2 separate regions of the Homo sapiens genome follow, and region 1 is linked to region 2. A link means that fine-mapping ties the variant in region 2 to the expression of a gene that starts in the linked region. Tissue or cell type: gastroesophageal junction. Region 2 holds a variant in brackets; the other region holds the start of a gene. All regions are shown on one strand. Distances are between the middles of the regions.

What was found. PIP is the estimated chance that this variant, and not a neighbour inherited with it, causes the effect.
Region 1: it holds the start of TSHR-AS1, and the variant in region 2 is fine-mapped to the expression of TSHR-AS1 in gastroesophageal junction (GTEx, PIP 0.92).

Annotation. Positions count from the first base shown.
Region 1 is chr14:81,168,935-81,171,696 of GRCh38, forward strand. It overlaps TSHR-AS1 (TSHR antisense RNA 1), which reads right to left and starts at 1,472. Exons shown (of 9, transcript XR_007064290.1): 1 at 1,175-1,472. It overlaps LOC105370594 (a long non-coding RNA gene), which reads left to right. Exons shown (of 2, transcript XR_944073.3): 2 at 727-2,762. RefSeq lists enhancers at 1,197-1,256, 1,477-1,846.
Region 2 is chr14:81,250,008-81,252,769 of GRCh38, forward strand. No RefSeq gene overlaps it. Among named protein-coding and RNA genes, the nearest start is that of GTF2A1-AS1, 30 kb to the left of the region's middle. The variant G/A (reference allele first, on the strand shown) is at 1,078.

The sequences.
Region 1 (2,762 bases), 81 kb before region 2:
TTGAGTGTGGTTTTTTCCCACAGAAGTCTTTATTGTCTACAATTCATGAAGCAATTTAATGTTGTTATGCATTATATTTCTTCCACTTTCCTTTAAAACTTAACATTCTAATTTTTCTCTCACAGTCAATATTTTGACCTATTCATGCTTACCAATTTCTTTGTTTTCCATTTCTTCTTTCATCCTCTTTTGAATTTCCATAATCTTTTTTCTAAAGTTTATTGTTTACTAGGTCTTTCTGCCTGGATAGAACTTGTAAATAATAAACACTTTCAGTTTTTATTTTAAAATATCTTTATTTCATCCTGACTGAAATAATATTTTTAGCTGGGTCTAGGTTCCTAGATTGAATTATTTCCCCTTAGTACTCTGAATACACTAACAAGGTCTTTATCCTCGTTTTTAATGAGGAACCTGCTCTTAATGGGTAAGTAGTCATCTCCGAAGTCAGACTGGGTCCAACTTGACTCCACCACTCACTTGCTGTGTGACTTTGGGCAAAGTCTACAATCTCTCTGTACCTCACTTTTCCTATCTGTAAAATGGGGAGAAATCTAAAGCGTAGTGCATTGGGTTATTTAAAGATTCATACATGTGTAGTGTCTGAGACATAAAAAGCATTTGGCATTATTCCTATTTATTTGCTCAAGATGAGATGCCTTCTTGCGTTTGAATTGTTGTGTTACATTGCTCCCAGAAACATCTTGATTAGATGATTTTTCCCAGAAAAATAACAGATGCAGTCAATAAGTGCTGCTCCCACCGAGACACCAAAATATCCCGTAAACCAACACACTCTGAGCAGATCTTCGCAGTGAAACGCTGAGTCCACAGAGCGGCCACACAGACACGAGGCTGAAGAGGAAGGAAGCTGGGAACCCTGCGCGGGGTGAGTGCCAGGACTAGTTCCAGGCCCAGAACGTTTCCTAGGGAAGGGTTGAGTAAAGTGACAGTGGGGCAGCCCACTCTCCTCACGTATTTCTGGGATCCCAGCTATAAGAGATCCTATGACCCCCACAGACAGTTGAATTGGCAGGGGGATCTGCCCAGGGAGTAGGCAGAGACAGAGCTCCAGGTTGCAGGGAGCCCAGGGGGTTTTGTGTGCATGGCAGCTGCAGAGGAAGGTGGCTATAGGCGCCTATCCCCCAAGGCTCCCCATCTGACCTCAACTTACCAGTGAGCCAAGAGAGAGCAGGGCGGTCCTTCCTGCGGGACTGGGGCGCATATGTTCTGCGGGACCCCCTGCACGCAGCCCCTCCCAAAGCCCCTGTCTGGTTGTTCCTGCAGGAGTGTGTGCACTGTGCCGCCTCCGCTGCCCAGCCTGAGTTCTTGCTAGCGACCCCGCCTGAATGCTTTCCAGGCAGCTTGGGAGCACTTCGGATCCCCCAACACAGCAGGGGTCTGACCCCGAGGGGCCGAAAGACAGAGCCCAATGCCCCAAGGTTGCAGCACAGAGCTCAGGAGTGCCCAGCTGAGACCTGTGGCTGGTGCGCAAGCGCGGGGGAGGAGCCTCCACTCAGAACACTGGGAGGAGTGAGAAGCAGTTCGTGGGCCAGCGCGGGATGAGACTTGTCTCTCTCAGGGCCTTTCAGGGAAGGGTTGCGGCCTGTCTGCAAGCCTTAGCCTCTGCCGGAGAGAGCCCCCACAGCTCCGAACACCTAACAAAGGAAACGTAAGTGCAGCTCCAGTGATTGGAGGGGGCTCCTCTAAGGGCCAGGAGAGGACTTGGCAAAAGGATCATCTCTCTCCCCTGAACTATGGAGCATGACTGCGAATACAAAATACCAAAGAGCCAGCGCTGAGTCAGAGCCTGCCGGCAATTACTCTTAAGCGCCATCTACTGGTTTGCCGCCGAAATTACAATTTCAAAATATTCTGCCAGTATAGAGCACCTGTAAAACCCAGAGCAAGAATCTAGCCACAAAGATCCCATACAGAGCCTTGGCCCTCTGAAAGTATCCAGAAATGAAGCCAATTGACTATACTCAACATATACCACAGTTAAGCCCTCAAGGTAAATGAATAATATAAAAACAAGACGACAAAGGAACACCAGCCCTCTCAAAAGAGTCAGCACAAGAACTCTGGCAATTCAAAACGTCAAATAAGCATACTAGCCCCTCAGCAAGGACTGAAATGTCCGGAATGACAGACATAGAATTCAGAATCTGGATACCAAAGAAGCTCATCAAGATTCAAGAGGAAGTAGAAACCCAATCCAAGGAATCCAGTAAAAATGACCCAAAAATTGAAAGACAAAATAGCCATTTTTAAAAAGAACCAAACTGAACTGGAATTTAAAAATTCACTACAAAATTTTCATAATAGTGTTGGAAGCATTAACAGAGGAATAGATCAAGCTGTGGAATCTCAGAGCTCAAAAACTGATTCTTCAAATCAACTCAATCAGATAAAGAAAAAAATTTTAAATATACAAATCTTCAGAGAGGATACTCAATCTGTATCCACTGAACAATTTCTCATTTCCTGCTTCCTCCAGTCCGGAGTAACCACCATTCTACTTTTTGTTTCTAAGAATTTGATCACTGTAGATAACCTCATTTAAGTGGAATTGTGTAGTATTTATCTTTTTGTGATTGGCTTATTTCATGTATGTGAAATGTAAAAAAAAAATGAAGCTAACAAATATTTTATTAAAACTAAACATTAATGTGTTTCATGCCACTGAACTGTACACTTAACCATGGCTAAAATGGTAATCATATTTTATCACAGTAAAAAAAAATGGAAAAACACTCTCA
Region 2 (2,762 bases):
GACCTAGACTTGGAAGTCACATAGCATCACTTCCACTATACTTTCTCAGTTGAAACAGACATAAACCAGTCATAACCCAGATTAAAGAGATGGGAAAGAGACCCCACCATTTGATGGCGGATAGAATAAATAACATGTGAAACTGAAAATATTGCTGTTCACTGCATTCATTTTGGGAGAACACAGTCTGCCATAGTTAGGCACTTTTATTATTTCTACTATCCTTGTCAAACAGATATACTGATTTTCTCTAAATCCACCACTTACACTTAATTCTGCCTCCTTTACTTACATCATAGTGTTCTCTCTACTTGGAATGTACTTCCTTTCTTCACCCTGCCTTGCTCTGCCTTTTGAAGTGGTACCCTTTCCTTTAAGAGCTAGCTGAAAGCACAGCCTTTCTCTGTCTTTCCCCTGGTTGTAAGAGGTAATTTGATTTCTCCCTGCATTTCCAAAATCCATAATTTTAGCACCATTTATAGCACTTGTTATCTATACCCTGTATTATACATTATCTTCTTCTCTTTTTTTTTTTTTTTTTTTTGAGATGGAATTTCGCTCTGTTGCTCAGGCGGGAGTGCACTGGTGCGATCTCGGCTCACTGCAACCTCCGCCTCCCAGGTTCAAGCAATTCTCCCTGCCTCAACCACCCGAGTAGCTGGGATTACAGGCGCCCGCCACTACGCCTGGCTAATTTTTGTATTTTTAGTAGAGATGGGGTTTTGCCATGTTGGCCAGGCTGGTCTTGAACTCCTGACTTCAAGTGAGCCACCTGCCTCGGTCTCCCAAAATTCTGGGATTACAGGCGTGAGCCACCACGCCCAGCCTACATTATCTTCTTAAATGTAATTCATTTTGAGGGCAAGAAAGACAATATTTTCAAGTTTTAATGTGTACCGCTTAGTAGTTAGACTCATTATTTTGCTAATCTTAAGAATTCCCTAGGCCGGGCGCCATGCCTCACGCCTGTAATCGCAGCACTTTGGGAGGCCGAGGTGGGCAGATCACAGTGTCAGGAGTTCGAGACCAGCCTGGCCAACATAGTGAAACCACATCTCTACTAAAAATTAGCCAAGC[G/A]TGGTGGCACGTGCCTGTAGTCCCAGCTACCTGGGAGGCTGAGGCAGAAGAATCGCTTGAACCCAGGAGGCGGAGATTGCAGTGAGCTGAGATCGCGCCACTGCACTCCAGCCTGGGTGACACAGCGAGACTCCGTCTCAAAAAAAAAGAATTCCCTAAACGATTTTTGTTTTTGTTGATGAGGGTAATATTATAGAGTGGTCAAGAATACTGTGGTCTCATGACAAATGCAGCCTTATAAGCAAAGGTGAAATAGTCATTGCTGGAATACGCAAATGTGGCCCAGCCTCCCAAAGTCATTCCTGGGAACATTTCTGTATGTACTTGCTTACAATAGACATATTACGTTTTCCTAAAGTTTCAAGATTAAGGAAGTGCTCATTCTCCATAGGGCCTTCAGTCATTCCCTCTTCACTGGTTTTGGTTTTCCGTTTGTTGCTCCTCTTTTTTTCCTCTCAAATACTTTATTGTTTCCCACAGGCTTATCTGTTTTCCTACCCTTTATTGATACTGGGATTAAAATGAAATAGTAGAACATTCCATCACTGCCCCATATTTTCTAACATATGGATTCATGTTTCCATAAATTCTATGCATCTAATATTTTCATGCACGTCTTTAAAGAATAGATCTCCACAAGCTCATAATTTGGGTACCAACTATAGAACTGAAGATACCACATACTGTTGTGTAGTTTTCACACTGCATAAAAGGACTGTTTTATAAAGGCAGAGATGAAATCCAGCTTTTCTTTTTTTTTTTTTTTTTTTAGACAGGGTCTTGCTCTGTCACCCAGGCTGGAGTGCAGTGGCATGATCTCGGCCCACTACAGCCTCCACTTCCCAGGCTAAAGGGATACTCCCACCTCAGCCTCCTGAGTAGCTAGGACTACAGGCATGTGCCACCATGCCCGGCTAATTTTTGTATGTTTTGTAGAGATGGGGTTTCACTACGTTGCTTAGGCTAGTCTCGAACTCCTAGGCTCAAGCAATCTGTTAACCTTGGCCTCCCGAAGTGCTGAGATTACAGGCATGAGCCACTTGGCCCAGCAAAATCCAGCTCTTGATCTACCTGCAGTATTCTCTATGTTCTGGTGTGGAGCTTTGTCAGCCAGAAAGTGGGGTGCCCTTTTGTAACTCAAACAAAGAGGTCAAGTGTGTTGCTCTTGGCTCTGACGGTAGATTTGCTATCAAAACTGTCTTCTGAATGGGTGCTTCTAGAGGGTTGGGACCATATCTCATTTATCTCTATGCCCTTTCAACCTCATGGGGGGCTTAGAGACATTTATTGAATTACTACTATATTGCTCTGCAATTATTCCTAAAGATGACAGAGTGCTCCGAAGATACTAGTTATAACTGTCACCTGAAATGGAATGGACTCACTCACAACCTTCCTGTAGGTGGCAGAAAACCAGAGATGAGAGCTTAAACAAAGATTAGAAGCAGAGATAAAGACAGTAAGTTCCACCATTATCTTTATGACTGTTGGGCAAATTAACTGACCTTCTGTGCTTCAGTTTTGTTTTTTTATATACCTGCAAAATGAGGATATTTACAGGTATAAAATGTTTAGTAACCCTCCTTTGTAGGGTTATTACAAGGATTAAATGAAGTAATGCACATAAAACACAAAGCAGAGTGCTGGCCATTGCTGCTGTCACTGTTGAGTAATGTAGAGGAAAG